2 separate regions of the Homo sapiens genome follow, and region 2 is linked to region 1. The links come from fine-mapping of genetic effects on gene expression. A gene starts in region 1. The other region holds a variant in brackets. All regions are shown on one strand. Distances are between the middles of the regions. Region 1 holds the start of PSD2 (pleckstrin and Sec7 domain containing 2). Region 2 has its middle 21 kb from the start of PSD2.

The links.
Region 2: its variant is fine-mapped to the expression of PSD2 in whole blood (TOPMed, PIP above 0.99).

What each region holds. Positions count from the first base shown.
Region 1 is chr5:139,790,422-139,800,582 of GRCh38, forward strand. PSD2 (pleckstrin and Sec7 domain containing 2) reads left to right here and starts at 5,387. Exons shown (of 15, transcript NM_032289.4): 1 at 5,387-5,554. RefSeq lists an enhancer at 1-121 and a silencer at 4,906-5,105.
Region 2 is chr5:139,769,758-139,779,918 of GRCh38, forward strand. It overlaps a transcript of PSD2 not described here. Among named protein-coding and RNA genes, the nearest start is that of PSD2, 21 kb to the right of the region's middle. The variant A/C (reference allele first, on the strand shown) is at 5,420.

The sequences.
Region 1 (10,161 bases):
AGCTGGGCTGGGGTCATCATGGGAAAGAGTGAGATGGAGAAGACCGAGGACTGAGCCCTGGGAGCTCTGGCATTGGAGGTCAGAGAGGGGCGGAGAAACTAGCAAAGGAAGATGAGAAGGTGCAGCCAGAGAGGCAGGAGGAAAAACATGACAGTGAGGAGTCCTGGAAGTCAAGGGAAGAAAGTATGTCAAGGAGGAAGCGGGGATGAACGGTGTCAGATGCTGTCAGGAAGCTAAGACCAGGCCTGTGAATGGACTTTTGGATTTAGCATTGTGGCAGTCACTGAGGACTAGGCCACAGTCTAGCACCATGTACAAACTTTAGAAAATGGTGGCCATGGCCGGGTGCTGTGGTTCATGCTTGTAATCCCAGCTCTTTGGGAGGCTGAGGTGGGTGTCCTGAGGTCAGTTGTTCAAGACCAGCCTGGCCAACATGATGAAACCCTGTCTCTACTAAAAATACAAAAAATTAGCTGGGTGTGGTGGTTGGGTGGGGGGGAGCGCCTATAATCCCAGCTACTCGGGAGACCGAAGCAGGAAAATCGCTTGAACCCAGGAGGTGGGGGGTGCAGTGAACCGAGATTGCACCATTGCACTACAGCCTGGGCAACAAAAGTGAAACTTCATCTCAAAAAAATAAAAAAAGAAAAGAAAATGGTGGCCATTCCAGGTGGACCTGGCTACACAGGCAAACAGAAGGTGGATACCTTGCTGTAAAGAAAAAGGCACTCTGCACAGTGGCTCACACCTGTAATCCTAGCACTTTGGGAAGCCAAGGCAGGAGGATCACTTGAGCCCAGGAAGTCAAGACCAGCCTGGGCAACATGGCGAAACTCCATCTCTACAAAAAATATAAAAATTAGCTGGGTATAGTGGTGCATGCCTGTAGTCCTAGCTACTGGGGAGGCTGAGATGGGAGGATCGCTTGAGCCTGGGAAGTCAAGGCTGCACTGATCTGAGATCATGCCACTGCACTCCAGCCTGGGTATTCCTGTCTCTAAAAGAAAAACAAAAAACAAAACAAAACAAAACCAAAAACAAAAAGAAACCCACTCAACAAACTAGGAATAGAAGGGAATGAACTCAACATGATAAAGGGCATTTATGAAAAACCCACAGCTAACACTGTACTCAGGTTGCAGCGAGCCATGATTGTGCCACTGCACTATGCTGGCCTGAGACCCTCTCTCAGAAAACAAAAAACAAAAAACAAAAAAAAAAGAGAAAGAAAAAGGCATCTCTTCCCCTGACAGATACAACCTTGCATCAGGACACACAGCATGGTGAAAGGAGAACAGGTTGGGTTTTAGCTACCTCTCCATCCTTCATGTAACCCAGCACCCTTGTGCAGTGCCCAGCCTGCACATCTGTACTCAGCAACTGTGTTGGTGACTTTGATGAGTGGTGTCAGTGGACTGTACAGGGAGATAAGAGCTAGACTGGAGTTCCTTTGAGAGACAGGAATTAGAGACAGCCAGCATGGACAACTTTTTCAAGGAGCTTTGCTGTAATAGGTAAAGAGAAATGGGATGGTAGCTGGGGAGTGGAGAGGAATTAGCCAAATGAGAGTGCGTGAAGGGGAAGGCATCCCAGGCAGAGAGCCTGCCTAAGCAAAGGGAGGTCACTAGAAATGGTTGAGGGGGAATGAGTGTGGGAGGGGTCCTAGGACATCAAATTTGAGGTGGGAAGTGTCAGGAGAGGGGACATAGAATAGGTGAATTGGGGCCTTCATCTTGGGGTCGTGGGGGTGCTGGGGACAGGGGCAGGTTACAACAAAGCTGTGAACACAGTAGGTGCTTATTGAGCTCTCTGGGATTGGCCTGGGGAATCCCTACCCAGGCACCCCACCTGGGCCTCAGGCTTCCAGCTGGAAGATGGGAGAATTGGGTGTTTTAGGGGTCCTCTGAGTCAAGCCTCTTCTGGGTTGGACCCAAATGAGTCCTCCCAATTGGTGGGTCCCTCTGTCCCTGCCCAAGGTGCTGACCATGCCCAATGCAGCTGGCCCCCCCTCCCCCCATAACTTTCATGCTCTCCTGGGGACCAGTCAAGGGCCAGGCGGTAAACCATGGGAAAAGGCCCCTCCATGTGCAAGGGTCTTTGGTTCAGCCTTGGCACCTGCTTCTTATGAGACCCCCTCAGGTGAGGAGGCGGGGTGGGGGAGGAAAGGGAGGTCACTTGGAGGAACAGGGAGAAGCTGCGCATTCTTCTTTCCCTTGAGGAATGGGGGAAATATCGTCTATTCTGGCTCCTGGGTAGGGGGATGTTGACCCTGCTGTCTTTCTTTCTCTTTCTTTCTTTTCTTTTCTTTCTCTCTTTCTTTTTTCTTTCTTTCTTTCTCTTTCTCCCTTCCTTCCTTCCTCCCTCCCTCCCTCTCTTTCTCTCTCTCTTTTCCTTCCTTCCCTTCCTTCCTTCCTTTCTTTCTTTTTTTCTTTCTGTCTTTCCTTCCTTCCTTCCTTCCTTCCTTCCTTCCTTCCTTCCTTCCTTCCTTCTTTCTTTCTTTTTTCTTTCTTTCTTTCTGTCTTTCTTTCTTCTTTCCTTCTTCTTTTGACTGAGTCTTGCTCTGTTGCCCAGGCTGGAATGTAGTGGCACGATCTTGGCTCACTGCAACCTCTGCATCCTGGGTTCCAGTGATTCTCTTGCCTCCGGAGTAGCTGGGATTACAGGTGTGCATCACCACACCCGGCTAATTTTTGTATTTTTAGTAGAGAGGGGGGTTTCACTGTGTTGGCCAGGCTGGTCTCGAGCTCTTGACCTCAAGTGATCCAACCCACTTTGGCCTCCCAAAGTGTTGGGATTACAGGCGTGAGCCACCATTCCCAGCCTGACCCTGCTGTCTTTCAGGAGGCGAAGGTAGCCACAAGGAACAGTAACAATACTCCCCTCTCCAGTGTCCATGGCACCCAGAACACTCACACAGAGCTCACCTGTGGCCTCCAGGCAGCCCTCTGAGCCCTAGGGAGCTAGTTCCACTTGACGGAGGGGAAAGGAAGGTTCAGGAAAGGGTACAGCTGCCCATAGCCACACAGCTAGGAAGTGTGGGTTGGGGGGACTGGACTAGAACCCGGGTCTCCTTGCCCCTGCCACAGGCTCCCAGAGCTACAAAGGACAGGGGGCAGATCCAGGGGGCAGAGACTAGGTTCTGTGTGCCAGCCCAGCGCAAGTTAGCTGGAGAGACAGCTATGTCTACCTTTCCCCTTTCCCTGTTCTTTCCTTCCACATAATTTATTAAGCCATGCTGAGTGTTAGGTGCTGAGGATACACTGTGAACCCTTTCAAGGGGCTCAGAGTCCATCCAGTGGACAACAATTAAATAGTGCATTCCATGAGTAAGTAATCATTACAGCTGGAACAGCCATGGCCCATTGAGTGCATCTGTGTGCCAGGTCTTGAGCACATCAGCTCTTTCGGTCCCCATCCTAGCCTCACAAAGAGGGGGACTGCTACCATCCTCATTGGGCAGATGAGGAAGTAGGAGCCCAGAAAGGTGGTCCAGCTGTGACTTGAGGGCATGGGTGCCAAGGGTGGGGAATGTGGTATCTAAGCCCTGCCATGAGCACTTCCCTCCACAGCCCCTGCTGGTCGCCACCCTTCTCTGCCTACAGGTAGCAGAGGGCAGGGGGGTAGAATGCAGGACAGCAGGGAAGCCAAGCTCCCTCTGTGCCCTTTAAGATCCTGGGCACCTGCACAGAGAGTGGCTCCCTTGTTTCTGGGCTCTGCGGTAATGTCCTAGGGTTTGATGGGCAGTGAAGGATGTGGTCTGAGTGCCCTCTTAATTGACCAGCTGTGCTCACAGATTCAGATCTCCTGGGATCATGAGCAAGTGACTTATGCTCTCCAAGTCTCAGTTTTCTCATCTGTAAAACGGGTTGTAGGATTGTTTTGAGAATTAAATATGACACATGAAGAGCACTTGGTAGATGCTTGGTTGTCAGAGGTGTCACCATGGTTGATGAAGTCCCAGCTCCTGCTGTTGCCCAGCTTGAAGGGAGGGAGACTACGCACAGCTCAGATTCCACACCTCCAATTACTGCCACCCTAAGAGGTCAGCAAATCCTCTTCCTGCTCCCTAAGAAGAGTCCATGTTTGTGTGTTCATGGGTGGAAAGAAGGTCAGAGAAGACTTCATGAAGGAAGGGGCATTTAAGGAGGAATTTGAGGGTTCAGTAGGAGTTCACTGAGCACAGCAGGATCAAGGCCCCACCGGGCAGAGTGTGGATCATCTGCTGAGGTCTGGAGATGGAAGCAACTGGGTGTGGTGAACCCCCCAGGGGCTGGAGTAGGGGAGAGGGGTAGAAAGTGGCCTCCAGTGGCAGGGCCTGACTCTATCCTGATTTCCCTTCTCCCAGGCACTGGGCCTGCTCCCCACGCCCTCCTTAGATCCCTGTGGGTGGGGGCCCTTTAATGCCTCTCTGAGAGGCGGACTCTTACTCTGCAGGTGCCTCACAGCCAGGAAGTTCTTAATGTCTAGCCCAGGTACAGCCAGTCAACCCTCTTCTTCAGTTAGAGTCCTGGGCTGAGGGGGGCGGCTTCAGGGCCTTGACTTGCCCTTGGGGAGACACCGTGGGACAGGTGCCTTGGGAGATGGTTTCCTCTGCCCAGGGCACCCTCTGTCTCTCTCTGTCTCCTTATATCTGCCCAGGGAGGCTTCCCCTTGACCTGGCACAGGGATGTGGATTCTTGGTTGGACCCACCCCTCACCTCCCGCCTCCCTCAGGTTCTTTCTCCTTTGTCTCTTTCTCCTCTCTCCTGCCTCCTCCCATCCCACTCTGTCCCGAGGCTCCTTCTCACCCCACAGCCCAGGTCTCCGTCCCGTCCCGTGTGACTCTAGGTCTCAGGGGCTCAGTCTCCCTCTCTGAGATTCTTCACCTTGGCCCCCCGCACTCCCTGCTCCTCCCTTGGCGGCGTCTCCCGGGGGCTGGCGTGTGTGTCGGGGGGCTGGGGGCAGGGGTCACTCCCTGAACAGACCGCGGGAGGAGGGCCAGGACCCGCCCCCTCCTTCACCTCCAGGGCCTGGCGGGTCCCGAGAGCTCAGGTTCTAGACCGGTGGGTCCTGCCTGGAGGGCGGAGGTGGTTGGGTCTGCCCGAGGGTTCGAGGACGGCAGGGGCCCAGCGTGGCTAGGAGGGGGCAGAACCCCGGGCGCTCCCCTCCCCCCCTTTCTTAAAGGGCCCGCGCGGGGCAGAGGGGGACAAGGTGGGCCGCGCTCTCCCCGGCACGCTCGGGGTCCCGGGGCGAGCGCTGCGCTGCAAGCGGACAGGGCTGGGGGCCGCGCTTCCCTCCGGGCTCCGCGCCCGCCGCTCGCGCGCCCGCAGTGCCCCCGCCCTTCCCCGCCCTTCCCGCTCCTCCCTCCTCCTCCTCCTCCAGCTCACGGCTCCGCTCCCTCCCTCCTGCCGTCCGTCCCCCTCGCTCAGCCTCTCCACATCGCGGCTCCGGCACCTGAAGGGACGCGGGCGGGCGCGGGCAGCTCCGACCGGCGGCGGCGGGGCGGGACAGGCAGCCCGGCGGCCTCCGATGGCCCCGCCGTGAGAGGCCGGACCCGCGGCGGGGACCAGCAGCGGTGAGTGGGGCCGCGGGGCTCCGGGACCCGCCCCTCCCCGCTGGCGGCCAGGCCGGGGCGGGACGGGCCGGGGAGAGGGCCGCGTGCGGGTGGGGGGCGTCGCCCTCGCCCTCGGTGCCCACCCGGGTCCGCTAACAAAGCTACATTTCCAGATCAATTCCGCGGCGTCTGGAGCATCCGAAGGATACGGTTGTCATGGAGATGGGGCCGAGAGAGGAAGCCCGGGCTGGCCGGGTCTGGGCCGGGGAGAGGGGGCGCCGCGGGAAAGCCCGAGCCCAGCCTGAGGGACGGTGGGGGCTGCCGGGCCGATTGTCTCCCGGCTCCGCCACCCACTACCCTCTCCCCGCTTTTGTATAATCTGGGGGTACGCGTGTGCGTGGGGGGTGCCAGTGGCAGCCTGGTGGTCGGGGATCGGGGCATTGGGTACCGGGGCCTGCCGGCAGCCACCTTCACGAGGCTGCAGCTTTGAGGATTTATTTCTGTTTCCAGTTTCCCAACTTTGACAGCCCTGCTTGGCGGCCAGGCCTCCCCGGCTCTGCAGCTAGAGCGGGGGCTCGCACGGGGGCGTGGCAGTCAGGGCTGAGGAGGCACATAATGGCCGAGGCGGCAGCGGGAGGGAGGGGTCCCAGGAGCGGGCTGCTGGGGCTGGGTGCAGAGGGAGTCCAGACTGGGGACAACCCTGCCCAGCGGGCCCCCTCGGAGGAGGAGGTATTCAGCTGTTCCTAGAGGATGCAGGGACTCCCCGGAATGATCACTGGGGGCATTGTTTTTGCATAGGCCCAGGGGGCCACTGTCTCAAGCCCACCCCTTTGTCTTGGGGCCATCTTGGGGGGGCCAGGAAGAGAACAGGGAGCAGAAGCAGCAGTCACAATGGAAGAGGGCCTAAGACTCCTGGCAGCCTGGGGATAAGCCAGGCTGAATTTGATGGGGATCAGCGAGAGGGCTCAGGATTTGGCCAGGGCAGGTGGGCAGCCTGGGTTTGGACTTTCCTGGGTTCCCCAGTTCCTTTTTCTAGATCCTACAAACAAGAGCTGCTTAATAGTGGTTGGGGGTGGGGGGGTTCACTGGGCTGGGACTGCCTCCAAACCCAACCCGTGGCCCAGGGCAGTTGCAGTCGTTCTTTCATTCTTCCACCCTCTCCCCAGGACTTTAGGAACCTGTCTCCCAGGGAAGCTACAAGTTCTGGGGCCTGGGATCTCCGAATCAGTAAAATGTGCCTGCTGTCCTCCCAGCAGCCCCTTTCCCCAATATATGCGGGAAGCAGGGAACAGGGGCTTTTGAGTGGGGCTACTGCAAAGTTTGGTCCTGGTGGAAACATAGCAGGTCCCTAGGGTTTGGCCAGAGCCCCCAAAAGATTCCCACGCAGTGGGGTGAGTAGGTGGGTGTGGCCCAGCTAAAGGAGGATGACTGGGTTGTCCTTGGAAGGCCTCCCTCACTGGTGCCTCTTGCAAGGTTGAAGTCTCAATGCTTGGGTGAATTGCACCCTGCAGCCCAGGGATGCCCCCAGAGGCCTCCCCGCTGCAGCTTGTCCTGGTCTGACAACTATGGGGTGCACGCTCCACAAGCAGACCTGACAAATAGTGCCTCCCAGGGTCTTCCCTGAAGGGAGAGAGCAAAGATAGCTGGAAGGAATGACTTCCTGCTCTAGACAGGACTGAGAGAGAGAGTGTGGCTGGGGGGTATTACCTCACCTAGCTTCCACATATGGAGCATATGTGCTAAGTACCCTCATAACAGTCTTTAGAGGGAGGCACTACCCTTATTCCCATTTTGTGGTAGAGCTGTTTGTTCAAAGTCTCCTGGTTAGTAAGTGGCAGAGTGAGGATTTGCACTTGGCCAGAACTGTCTGATACTCAGACCTGTGTCCCCATCCTCTCCTCTTCTTCCCTGGAGACACAATTTAGGAGAGAGGTGGGAGGTGGGATAGAGTGTCTCTCCATCTGGGCAAGAGGGTGACCTTGGGAAAAACAAGCACTAAGCTGTAGTTTCCTAGGGAGGTGGGATCAAGGCATTCCCATTCCGGACGTTGGCTTGCAGGAGATCAACACTGCCTCTCACAACAGACGATGCTCTAGACCTCCTTTGCCAGATGGTCTTTTCCAGGAAAATCTGTTTTGAGCGGCATCTTATGTCTGAGGCTCCGTATTTAGACTGGCTCTCCAAACAGGAGGATACACTTAGGCTGTCGCCCCTTGAGGGGTGTTTGGGGGAGTTGGGTGGGCTTGGGGCCAGACCTGGCTCCTTGCCACAGCTCAATGGAGGGGGAGGGGCCCATGTTCCTGCCCTGGTCTCCCTGGGACCAGCTTGTTTTCCTTGTCCCTCTAAGCCGGCTTGCCCACAGGTGAGTCCGTTTCCTCAGGGTCTGGCCCCCTTTTCAGGTGGTAAGCCACTCCAGCGCTGTGCCTGCCTGGCCTGGGCTGGCCTGTGGGCTGGCCCACAGCTCTGCATGCTCAGGTTTGTGGACTGCCCTGGGGAAGGAATGTCCTCTCCTCTGACTCCTGCCCCAAAATTCCAACCCCTGAGCTCCCCTCTTTGGAACGTCTCCCTCCACTCCCTTCCTTCTCCCACCTTACTTTTTATCTTGTCAAAGCTGATAGTATAGTGAACACCCACCTACATACCCTTCACCTAGAGACCTAGATTTGCCAGTTGTTAACATTTTGCCACATTTGTTTCTCTCTCTCTCTCTTTCTCTCTCTCTCTCAATCTTTTGAAAGTAAGTTGCCAACATTATAACACTTCACCTCTAAATACTTCAGCATGAATTTCCTGAGACAGGGACATTTTTCTACAAAAATAATGCATTGTTATCATACCCAAGAAGTTTAGTAATCATCCAGTTTAACCTAACATGTAGTCCATATTTAAATTTCTCTAGTTGTCTCAGTAAAGTCCTTTATAGCTGTTTTTTTTAATTTGATCATGGAACATACATTGCATTTAGTTATTATGGCTCTTTAGTGTTTCAATCTGGATGAATCCCTGGCTTTTTTGAGATTTTTTTTAATGACATTGTCAATTTGGAAGGCTTGTGATACGTCTCACATCCTGGATTTGTCTTCTTGCTTGCTTGTGATTAGAGTCAAGTTAACCATTTTGGGGCAAGAATATCTCATAGATGATGTCATGTCCTTCTCAGTGCATGATATTGGCAGGCACCTGTTATTAGTTTGTCCTGTAGTAGGTGGTGGTAAGTTAGGTCACTTGGCTCAGGGGTCCCTGTATTTCAATTCTGTTCCTCCCCCTTCCCTACCTCCAGAAGCTTCATCTACCTGGTAATCTGCGCACCAGGTCAGCAAATCTGACTGAACCCCTACATCAGACCAGATGCTGGAGAATAGAGAAGCAGACAGAAACTTTCAGGGAGCTCAAAACTTCAGGGTTGGGAGTGGGGGAGCCACAACTCAGACAGGTGCTGTTGGTGGGGGAGAGGGGAAGCCCAGAGAAAGTAGTGAGAGGCACAGCAAGGGGAGAGGGCATGGGGGCCAGACAGGAAGGGAGGCCCAGGCCACAGCTAGCCTGGAATGTGGGCTGAGGGGTTGGCCTTTTCCCCAAGGGCACTTCAAAACCACTGAAGGGTTTTGAAGAGGGGATGATGAGGCAGTTTGGAGTGTTGGAAAGGCACTCTGAGGAGGATGGAGTGGGGCTGACTGGGCCAGCACATGGGAAAGAGACCAGCCAGGAGGCTGTGGCAGCACCCAGCACAAGACAGGGGGGACAGCATTGGGGCTGCTGCTTGTGGCATATAGAGAGAGTGGAGTTGTGTGGTTTGGGGGCCCTGCTGGGAGGGTGTTGCTGGGGGGTATCGGAGAAGGGGATGGAGCTGGGAGAGATTTAGGAAGCAGAACGGACAGGCCCTTGTGTCTGACTAGAGATAGGGAGAGTGGGAAGGATGAGCTTGTGCAATGGCTTGGGAAGGGAGATGGAGGTTTTGAGTGTATGAGGTCTGAGGTGTTTTCCAGGCCAGAGGAATGGTGTGTGGGAAGCTCATTTGGTGGCCCCAACTGTGGCCCCCTTGCAGAAGCTCATTTTGAGATGCAGGCAGAAAGAAGAGCCACACATAGCCCACTGCAGGGGATGGATGGTGGGCTTCAGGCACCAGCAGGGGAGGGCCCTGAGCAGGGCTAGGCCAGCTCAGATGGCAGCTGCCCCTGTGGAAGCCAGGATAATCCTGCCACTAACTTGCAGACCCCAATTCCCTTACCTCATTTTGCTTCTTCACACTTTCTTGGCAAAACCCCAACCCTGGTTAAATCCAATGCCTGGCCTACCCCACTCCTGCACATGCAGCTGAATGGGGCTGAGCAAAACAACTGCCCTGACTGTTCTCACTTTCAGTCCAAGCCCATGAACTCTGAACTTCAGGTGGGTCCTTAGTGCAGTCCACCAGGCACAGCACAGGTTCTGAAGTTGTCGCCTCTCCCACATGCTAGATGATTCTTTCACACTTGCTCTTTGTGTGTGTGTGTAGAGATGGGGTCTCACTATGTTGCCAGAGCTGGTCTTGAACTCCTGACCTCAAGTGATCCGCCCTCCTCGGCTGCCCTCCTTGGCTTCCCAAAGTGCTGGGATTATGGGCATAAGCCCCTGTGCCCGGCCCTCACTTG
Region 2 (10,161 bases), 21 kb before region 1:
CACTGATGGTGGCAGTGGGGGGCAGTGCCCTGAGTTGGGCCAGCCACAGTCCTCCTTGGAAGTTTCCATCTGGCTTGCGGTGAGGGTGGAGGTGGGGCAGCTTCATTGACGTGGGGTCACACAGGGCCCCATGCTCACCAGGGCCTGCTTACCTTAATGCTCTGCTGTAGCTGTCTTGAAATGTCTCATAATTTCATCTTTGAACTTGTGTTTTGTAAGTGGGGTCCAGTGGGACAGTGGAGCATGCGGTACACAGAGAGGTAGAACCTGGGTGTCATGCGGGCCGGCTGGGGCTCCTGTGTGCATGCAGTGCTGGTGATGCCCGTGAGCACAGGATTCTGATGACCCCACCACATGTGGGGGCTCAGCAAGACTCAAAGTGAGTGTAAGGTAAGCTTGTTATGTCTACAACTGAGTAAGAGGAACGCTGACAGCCCTGAGGGACCTCACCATCCATTTCAACCAGAACTTGCCAGATGCAAGAAGAAGGCAATTGTGTGCTAAGAAACATGAACAGGGCCTGTCTTGGTGACTCACGCCTGTAATCCCAGCACTTTGGGGAGCTGAGGCAGGTGGATCTCCTGAGGTCAGGAGCTCGAGACCAGCCTGGCCAACATGGTGAAACCCCATCTCTACTAAAATACAAAAATTAGCTGGTCGTGGTGGCAGGCGGACTATAATCCCAGCTGCTCAGGAGGCTGAGGCAGGAGAATTAGGAGAATTGCTTGAACTGGGGAGTCGGAGGTTGCAGAGAGCTGAGATCGCGGCACTACACTCCAGCCTGGGCAACAGAGCGAGACTCCGTGTCAAAAAAACAAACAAACAAACAAAAAAACATGAATGGCCCAGGAACCCTGCTATAGCCTTCTTCCTCATGTTATTTCGCTGGATAAGCCAACCGCTGACACTAATCATGATGAGCTAGGACAGGGACAGATCAGGCAACCTGTAGTTCCTTTCCTTTCAGCCCCTCCTCACACATCATAAGCTAAAAGCAGAGCATGTTGAGAGAATGTGCATAAGTCAAGAAAAGAAATGAAAACAGTTGAGTAAGTTTTGTGCCCTTTCCCACCATTTCAGGTAAGATGAAATACACATGTGTGCACAAGGTACTGAATACAAATTATACGATTTTGATGATTCTGCATATGAGTTAAACACCCTTATATTTGCATTTAAAACTGACATTGCACAATAGAAAGATGAATAGTAAAATTCATGCTAGTCATTTAGATTTTTCATTTTTCTTTACTTAAAATGATATTTAACAAATACAAACTCATGACAAATCTAGAGGCAGACCAACAGAAAAGAAGCGAAGCTTTATATATCTCTAGGTACAGATACATAGATACTTTTATATTTTAGCGCCTTTATTATTAGGCATTTCCCTCCTGCTTTTTGAACAAGAAGCTCCACATTTTCATTTTGTGCTGGGTCCCATGTTGTGACTGGCCCGGGTGGCGGAGTCTCTATTTTAGGGTGAGGAATTGCGGGCCTGGGGACCCGGGGCTGCCCCACCCCTGGGCACTCCCTCTGTGGTGGAGCCGCCGTGGTGGGTAAGGCCCTGAATAGCCTGAGCGCAGGAGTGCAGGCAGGAAGCAGGCCTGCTTTCTTTTCTTTTCTTTTCTTTTTTTTTGAGATGGAGTCTCACTCTGTCGCCCAGGCTGGAGTGCAGTGGCACAATCTCGGCTCACTGCAAGCTCCGCCTCCTGGGTTCACGCCATTCTCCTGCCTCAGCCTCCCGAGTAGCTGGGACTACAGGCGCCCGCCACCACGCCCGGCTAATTTTTTGTATTTTTAGTAGAGATGGGGTTTCACCGTGTTAACTAGGATGGTCTCGATTTCCTGACCTCGTGATCCGCCCACCTCGGCCTCCCAAAGTGCTGGGATTACAGTCTTGAGCCACCGCGCCCCGCAGCCTGCTTTCCTTTCTATAACATTCTTCCCAGCTGGTGCAAGGTCTGGCTGTCCCTGGAGTCTGGCTCTCTCCCTGGTGTGCCACAGGCTATTTAGGGTCTGGGGCAGTGTAGCGCATATGGGGAAGTAAGTTCTCTCAGACTTCAAGATGCTGTTGCCCCTGGCCTTGGGGGGCATCTTCACTGACCACTGGGCTGCCATCCAAGGACCACGGTCCAACCCCTTCCAAGGGCAGGGCCTGCAGAGGGGCCTCAGAAACGGTGTTGCGGGACTGGAGATGGGCTTCTGTCTCCTCGCTCCCAGCACCCTTCCCCAGCCAGGTGAGGGAGAGGTAGTGGGTTCTCTCCTTGGCTTGCTCTTAGGGGACAATGAGAGGAGGAACGGAAAGCCCTTGGCAGGGATCAGTTAGCAGCCAGGCCTCCTGTGCGAGGCCCTCTCCCTAGAGGCAGAGGGAGTGGGAGTGGGAGTGGAAGGGCAGCTGGGTGGGAGGAAAAAGCGTCCCCAGACTGGGTCCTTGAAGGCAGCACAGGGGGCATTAGATCCCTCCTCCCGCTCTATGACTTTGACTCTAGTCCCAGACCCAGCAGCTCAGCCAAGTTCTCTGAGCCTGTTTCCTTCTTTATATTGTGGCTAATGACTATACCTGCCCCAAGGACTGTTGAGAGCATTCTCCGAGCCGATCTGTAAAAAGCATTTGGTGCAGAGCTGGGCACTTAGAGGTCTCGGTTCATGGAGCCCCTCCTCCCCTGCTGTGAAGAGGAGGTTGGTGATCCAGTGAGGCCTCCCTGCTCTGCGACCAGGAACACCTTCTGTCCCCTCTCCTTCTCCCTGTCCCAGGGCCTCCTTCTTTCATCTCTCCTCCTCGTCCCCTCCTTTTCTCTCTGCTGTTCCTCTAGCATGCCACACTCATGCCCAGCACAGGGCCTTTGCACTTGCTGTTTCTTCTGTCTGCAGCTCAGGTCTCCTGGATGCTTGATGACTGACTCTTGATCATTCCTTGGGTCTTTGCACAAATGTCACCTCCTCTGGGATGGTATGCCTGACTGCTCCAGTTGAAACTCCTCCTCATGCAGCCACTCTGTTACATTTCACTTTTTAATTTTCTGCACAGCAGGTAATAGGTGATAATATTCTTGTTTATTTGTTTGTTCAGTATCTTTTTCCCCTCCCCGCAGGCTGTGAGCTCCAGGTGAGTGGGCACCTTGTCTGTCTTGGTCCCCAAGTCTTCAGTGACTAGCAACACACAGTAGGTGCACCAGGCAGATACAGGTACTGTTCTTATGGAGGTCACAGTTTAATGAATGAGGCAGGATTGAAAAAGCAAAGAAATGTTTTGATACATATTTTTTTATTTACGGTAAAATATACATAACAAAATTTATCATCTTAACCTTTTTTAAGTATACAGTTCAGTGACATTAAATACATTCACATTATTGTGCAACCGTCACCACCATCCATCTTTGGAAGTCATTCATCTCGCAAAACTGAAACTCTGAACTCATTAAAACAGTAACTCCCCCACCTCCTTTCCCAGCACCCTCCACCCCTGCAACCACCTACCTTCCTTTCTTCCTACCTTCCTTCCTTTCTTCCTTTTTTTAGATTGGGTCTCGCTTTTGTCACCCGGGCTGGAGTGCAGTGGCACAATCATAGCTCACTGCAGCCTTGAATTCCTGGGCTCAAGGAATCCTCCTGCCTCAGCCTCTTGATAGCTGGGACTACAGGCACACACCACCACACCCTGCTTTTTTTCATTTTTTTCTAGAGACAGAGTCTTGCTATGTTGCCCAGGCTGGTCTTGAACTCCTGACCTCAAGCAGTTCTCCCATCTTGGCCTCCCATTTTACTTTCTGTCTCTATGAATTTGACTACCCTAGGTACATCATATAAATGGAATCATACCATATTTGTCCTTCTGTGACTGGCTTATTTCATCAGCATAGTGCCTTTGAGGCTCACTCATATTGTCTATGTCATAATTCTTTCCTTTTTAAGGCTGAGTAGTACTCCACTGTGTGGATAGACCACCATTCACCTGCTGATGGGTTCTTGGGTGGCTGCCACCGCTTGGCTGTTGTGAATGATGCTGTTATGAATGTAGGGGTATAAGCATATCTTCGAGTTCTTGTTTCAATGCTTTTGGGAATATATCCAGATGGGGGAATTGGTGGATCATATAATTTTATTTTTAATTGTTTGAGGAACCACCATACTATTTTGCATACTGGCTGAACCCTTTTATATTCCTACCAACAGTGCACAAGGGACAAGGGTTTCAATGTCCCTTGATGTAATGTCCCAATGACATTGAGGGACATTGTCCCTCAATGTCCCAAGGGTTTACATCATAGCTCACTGCAGCCTTGAACTTCTAGACTCAGGTGATCCTCCCACCTCAGCCTCCTAAAGTGTGGGATTAGAGGCGTGAGCCGCAGCACTCGGTCTCGTTTTTTTTTTGATGTGCATTGTCCTAATGATTAGATTACACATTAGGCAGGAAGCATGTTTTTCAGGAATGGAGGGTGGGGAGCCTCTTAGCTTCAGTGGTCTCAAAGGACTCTTTGGGGAGGTGGTATTTGAACTGAAGCCTAAAAGAAGGGAAGAAAGCAGCCAGTGGTGGATCTGGGATAAGGAGTGGAGGTTCAGGGAGAGGGAACAGTAAGTGCACAGGACCTGAAGTGTGGAGTGAGCACTGCGTATTTTTGCTGGAAAATAGTGAATAATGGGCAGGGGGAATGGGGGAAGAGGTGGTTTAAGAGGTGGGCAGGGCTGGCCGATGCAGGGCTGTGGGCCCTGGAAAGGCTTTCTTGCTTTTCTTTTCTTTTCTGGAGATGGAGTCTTGCTCTGTCACCCAGGCTGGAGTGCAGTGGCACGATCTCGGCTCACTGCAACGTCTGCCTCCTGAGTTCAAGCGATTCTCCTGCCTTAACCTCCTGAGTAGCTGGGATTACAGGAGCCCACCACCACGCCCGGCTAATTTTTGTATTTTTTAGTAGAGACGGGGTTTCACCATGTTGGTCAGGCTGGTCTGGAACTCCTGACCTCGTGATCCGCCCACCTCGGCCTCCCAAAGTGCCAGGATTACAGGCGTGAGCCACTGCGCCCGGCCCCGGGAAAGGCTTTCTATTTGCAATTTAGAGTAAGCACCGCTTTCCTCGGGGTCCGCAGGGCACAGGGGAGGGACGGGGCCTGATTGGGTAGTGATGTTGCTGTGTCCACCATGGGAGTGTGGTGCTTGTGGATGTGTGCACATGGAGGCGTGGAGTGTGTTCCTGGACATCACCAGGAGCCCAGATCATGATTTGACCTCTATCGAGACCGTACTGTGCCGCCGCCCTCCTGCCTGCAGTGCCATTGGCCGCCCCAGCCAAGGTTGCTTCTGGCGCCCACCACCAGTCTGGGATCAGCAAGATGGATCTGGAACCCATACCCAGGAGGTGAGGCTAGACTCCAAGAAGAACAGCCAACACTTCGAAGGTTTGGAGACAAGGCCTTG[A/C]GGCACTGAGGTCAGATTACTCCACACCCTATCTTTGCAAGGCAGCAGGGGACGCAGGAGTGTTGGGGCACTGTCTCCGGGAGTGGCGGGGGCTGCTGCAGTACCTGGGAGGGCCGCGCGGGGGCGGGCGAGGACGCCGAGCTATGAGAGGAGGGAGGGCGCGCGAGGCCGAGTGGGGAGCTTGGAGCAGCGGGAAGGTCAGGGGCGCCCATCTGCGGCACTCTCGGTTTGGCTCAGTTTCTGCCTACAAGTGTCTGTGCGTGTGAGGAGAAAATAAAGTCATGAGCTCATCACCATCCCAGTGGCGTCTCATTTAATCGTCATACCAACATCCTCACAGGCCCAGAGACGTAGAGCCACTTACCCAAGATCACTCAGCAGGGGAATTCAGACCAGGCCCGCCTGACCCCCCAGCCTGTGCGCTACCCAGTGCCCCACCCTAAATGAACTCATCTGCAGGGGAGGGAGTTTCTTCGCCTGTCTTCTCCTTCTCCTTTCTTCTTCCTTTTTTTGTGAGAGAGAGCTCTTATCGCCCAGGCTGGAGTGCAATGGCACGATCTCAGCTCACTGCAACCTCCGTCTCCGAGGTTCAAGCGATTCTCCTGCCTCAGCCTCCCAAGTCGCTGGAATTATAGGCATGCGCCACCACGCCCTGCTAATTTTTGTATTTTTAGTAGAGACGGAGTTTCGCTATGTTGGTCAGGCTGGTCTCAAACTCCTGACTTCAGGTGATCCACCTGCCTCGATCTCCCAAAATGCTGGGATTACAGGCGTGAGCCACTGAGTCCAGCCTCTTCACCTGTCTTCTGACCTCAGTTTGCCCCCACCACACTCTGCCTCATCCCCCTCCAAGACGCCTCCCCAAGGTCCCTGAGGAGGGGTTCAGGGGCCCTGGGGAGAGCTCAGATATATACCCCATCACCATGGTAACGACACCGGCAGGATAACATCCAGTCTCCTTCCTGACCTCCTGCCGCTGAGGGCTGGGGAGGGGTATCCAGGGAGCCTGGCTGAGCCCCTGGCCTGCTTCTGGGACCCCTGCCACCTCTGCTGAATCTCCTCTGGGCATCGGGCCCAAGTCCCAAGGGCTGTAAGCTGGGATACAACCAGGGTCCCCCTAAAAAACCCAGCAGCCTCCCTCCCCCAAGTGCATGACTGGCAGTTTGGCCTGCCCTGGAGGAAAAATCATGGGTAATTTCAGCTGAGAACATTGAGCAGAAGGGCATCCTGAGGCCCAGAGAGGAGCAGGGAATTATCTAGGATCCTGCAGCAAGGCAGGGGCTGAGGCTTTGTTTGTTTTTGTCCAGAAACGGCTGGATGACCCCAGAAAAAGAGGTCAATAAGATATGTACCCAGAGGCTGGAGATTGAGGGGCCATAAAGTCAGTTTTCTGAACTCCTCCAGGAAGTCCTCCCTGACCATCCCCTCTATTCACCAATGTTAGACATGGTCGCAGAGCTCCCTTGACACTTTGCTCAGGTCATTCTGAGCTGCTTTTTTTTTTTTTTTCCAGATAGGGTCTTGTTCTGTCACCCAGGCTGGAGTGCAGTGGCATGATCAAGGCTCACTGTAGCCTCAACTTCCTGGGCTCAAGTGATCCTCCTTCCTCAGCCTCCTGAGTAGCTGGTGAGCTTCATTAAGGCACCTCAAAGAACCACAGTCCATTCTCCTGGCCAGCCTATAAATCCCCTCTCTAACCCTCCCGACAATGGGCTGCCCATCTTGCTTGCACACCTTATGTGATGGGGAGATAGCTGCCTTAAAAGGCATGTAGTTTCCACTGTAGGACAGTTTCTTCTAGTGAGACCAAGCTGGCCTTCTTGTGCTGTCCAGCTGTTGGAACTAGCTCACTCTGTGGAGCACAGAACAAGTGACTCCATCTGCTGCACACAGGCCCCAGATGGCTGCAGAGAGGTCTGTGTCCTCCCATCCCCATTCCAGCCTTTTCTCCAGCTTAAGTGGTGCCAGTTCCCTATAAACAACCTTTTCAGCCCTTCATCTCCTGGGCAACCCTCCACTGGGTATACCCTAATTGGCAATGGCCCCTTCTGTAGTGGCTTTTTCTCAATACACAAAAAAATATGTGTTTGTTATAGGGAAAGTAAAAAATATGCACAAGGGAAAAATATCCCCAATCCTACCACCCAGAGATGACCTCTTTTAGCTCCTTGGGGCCTCTTGTTGCAAACAGATGCCAATGTGTGCATTAAAGTGAGAGGCAAAAGCAAGACTATTTCAAAGCTGGTGGGAGGGAGGCCTTGTAGGGGAGAAAGGCAACGTCTGTCTAACTTAGTAGCTTGAAGGTCATTTGGTTGTAAGACAGGTTTGCTCAGGAAGACTGAGGATTGGGGCAAAGAGAATAAAATAATTTTGATGATAAAGAAAAATTTAGTTTCCAAAGGCCATGCTAGAAATGTGGGGAGCAGCCTGGGTGCTGTGGCTCATGCCCTTAATCCCAGCACTTTGGGAGGCCGACGTGGGTGGAGTGCTTGAGCTCTGGAGTTCGAGATGAGCCTGTGCAACATGGCCAGACCTCATCTCTACAAAAATACAAAAATTAGCTGCGTGTGGTGGCACACACCTGTGTTCCCAGCTACCTGGGAGGCTGAGGTGGGAGGATTGCTTGAGCTCAGGAGGTTGAGGCTACAGTGAGCCATGATAGCCCCACTGTATTCCAGCCTGGGTGACAGAGGGAGATCCTGTCTCAAAAACAGACAAATAAAAAAAGAAATGTAGGAGCATTTTGCTGAAGCATTGCCCTCCAGACAGGCTCCCAACAACCATTCCCTCTCAGTCTCCACCACCTTCCTCCTAGAGCCTGGGAACAAGGCAAACCCAGGCCCCCATGGGCAGGGCCTCTTTCAGAATGAAGAAGCGAGGGCTTCAGTGCTGGCCCCCTAGGAAAGTCCTACACAAGGTCCAGTTATGCCTTCACTGCAAATGTCAGTCAAAGTTGTATGCCCAATTAGTGGCACTCGAGGTGTGAAGGAATAAGTGTGGTTCCCAAGGGACAGTGCAGGGGGAAATGGGACAGTGCACACAAGATGTACAAGGCAGGTGGGAAGTGGAGAATGTCATGAAAATAGGAAGACAGCTAGTCACAATAAGGAGACATTAAGGCCCCCCAAGAACTGTAAGCCTTGGGACAGGCAGTGGTACACTGAGTAGCCCATGTCATGGGATGGGGTCTCTAGTCAAGAGAAGAGTGACTCCAGAGGCTCTGCTTCCTCCTTAACTGTATAGATAAAGAATATCTTTCCATTTCAGCAAATATTTGTGATGCATCATTTTAATGACATAATACTCCAGTGCATAAAGACACCACAATTTCTTTAACCAATACCCTATTTTAGGACATTTAAGTTATTTACAACTTTTTGCCATTATAATCAATATTGTAATGAACATCCTTGTAGCTATATCTTTGCCCACATCCATCTTTATTTTCTTAGGATAAATCCCTAGCAATGAGGGTCAGGCGTGGTGGCTTACGCCTGTAATACTAGCACTTTGGGAGGCCAAGGATCGCTTGAGCCCAGGAGGTTGAGATCAGCCTGGCAACTTGACAGAAACCCATCTCTCCAAAAAAAAAAGTGCAAAAAATTAGCTGGGTGTGGTGGCACGTGCCTATAGTCGCAGCTACTCAGGGGGCTGAGGTGGGAGGGTTGCTTGAACCCAGGATGTCGAGGCTGCAGTGAGCCATGATAGTGCCCTTGCACTCCAGCCTGGGTGACAGAGCGAGCCAATGTCTCAAAAAAAGAAAAAAAACAAAAAAAAAAAAAAAAAGAAAGAAAAAATTTGGTTAAAGGACAGAAACTTTTTTAAGGCTTTTGGTGCATGTTGACAAATTGCTTCCCAAAAGGTGCGCTGCATTTGCCTCCTAAATGCTGACAGCTGTGGGCCTGTGCTGATTTCCCCAGGACTTAGCCATCAGTTGTTTTTTAATTTATTTATTAATTTTTTTTATTTCCATAGGTTATTGGGGAACAAGTGGTGTTTGGTTACATGAGTCAGTTCTTTAGTGGTGATTGTGAGATTTTGGTGCAGCCATCACCTAAGCAGTATACACTGCACCCAATTTGTGGTCTTTTGGCTGTCTTCTTCTCCACATTTTATTGTTAAAATTTCAGACATACAAAAAAGTTGAACAAATTTTACAGTGAACACCTACGTAGCCACCCCCCGGGTTTTCTAATTTATTTTAGTGCCATCTTTGTCTTGTCATTATCTATGCATCCCTCCTTTACCCATCAAGTCATCTTTTTTGAGTGTATATTAGAGCAAATTACAGCTATCAGTACACTTTGACCCCCAAACACTTCAACATGTTTATCATGAACTAGAGGTCAATGCTTGTGTATGGTTCTTTGTTCTATGAAGGCAAAATTTTTTATACAATGAAATGCACAAATCTTAAGTATACCATTTATTGAGTTTTAACAAATGCATATATTTGTATAAGCCCAACTCTATCAAGATATGGAATATTTCCATCACTCCAAAAAGTTTCCTAGTTTCCCGGTTGCCCCCATTGTTCTGATTTCTTTCCACCATAGCTTAGTTTTGCTCATTCTAGAATGTCATAATCATCGAATCATGCAGTATCTACTCTTTTTACCTGGCTGGTTTCATTCAGCATAATGTTCTGGAGCTTCGTCCTGTTGTTGCATGTATCAGTAGTTTGTTCCTTTTTATTGTTGAGTAGGAATCCATTGTATGGATGTGTAATAGTTTGTTAATCC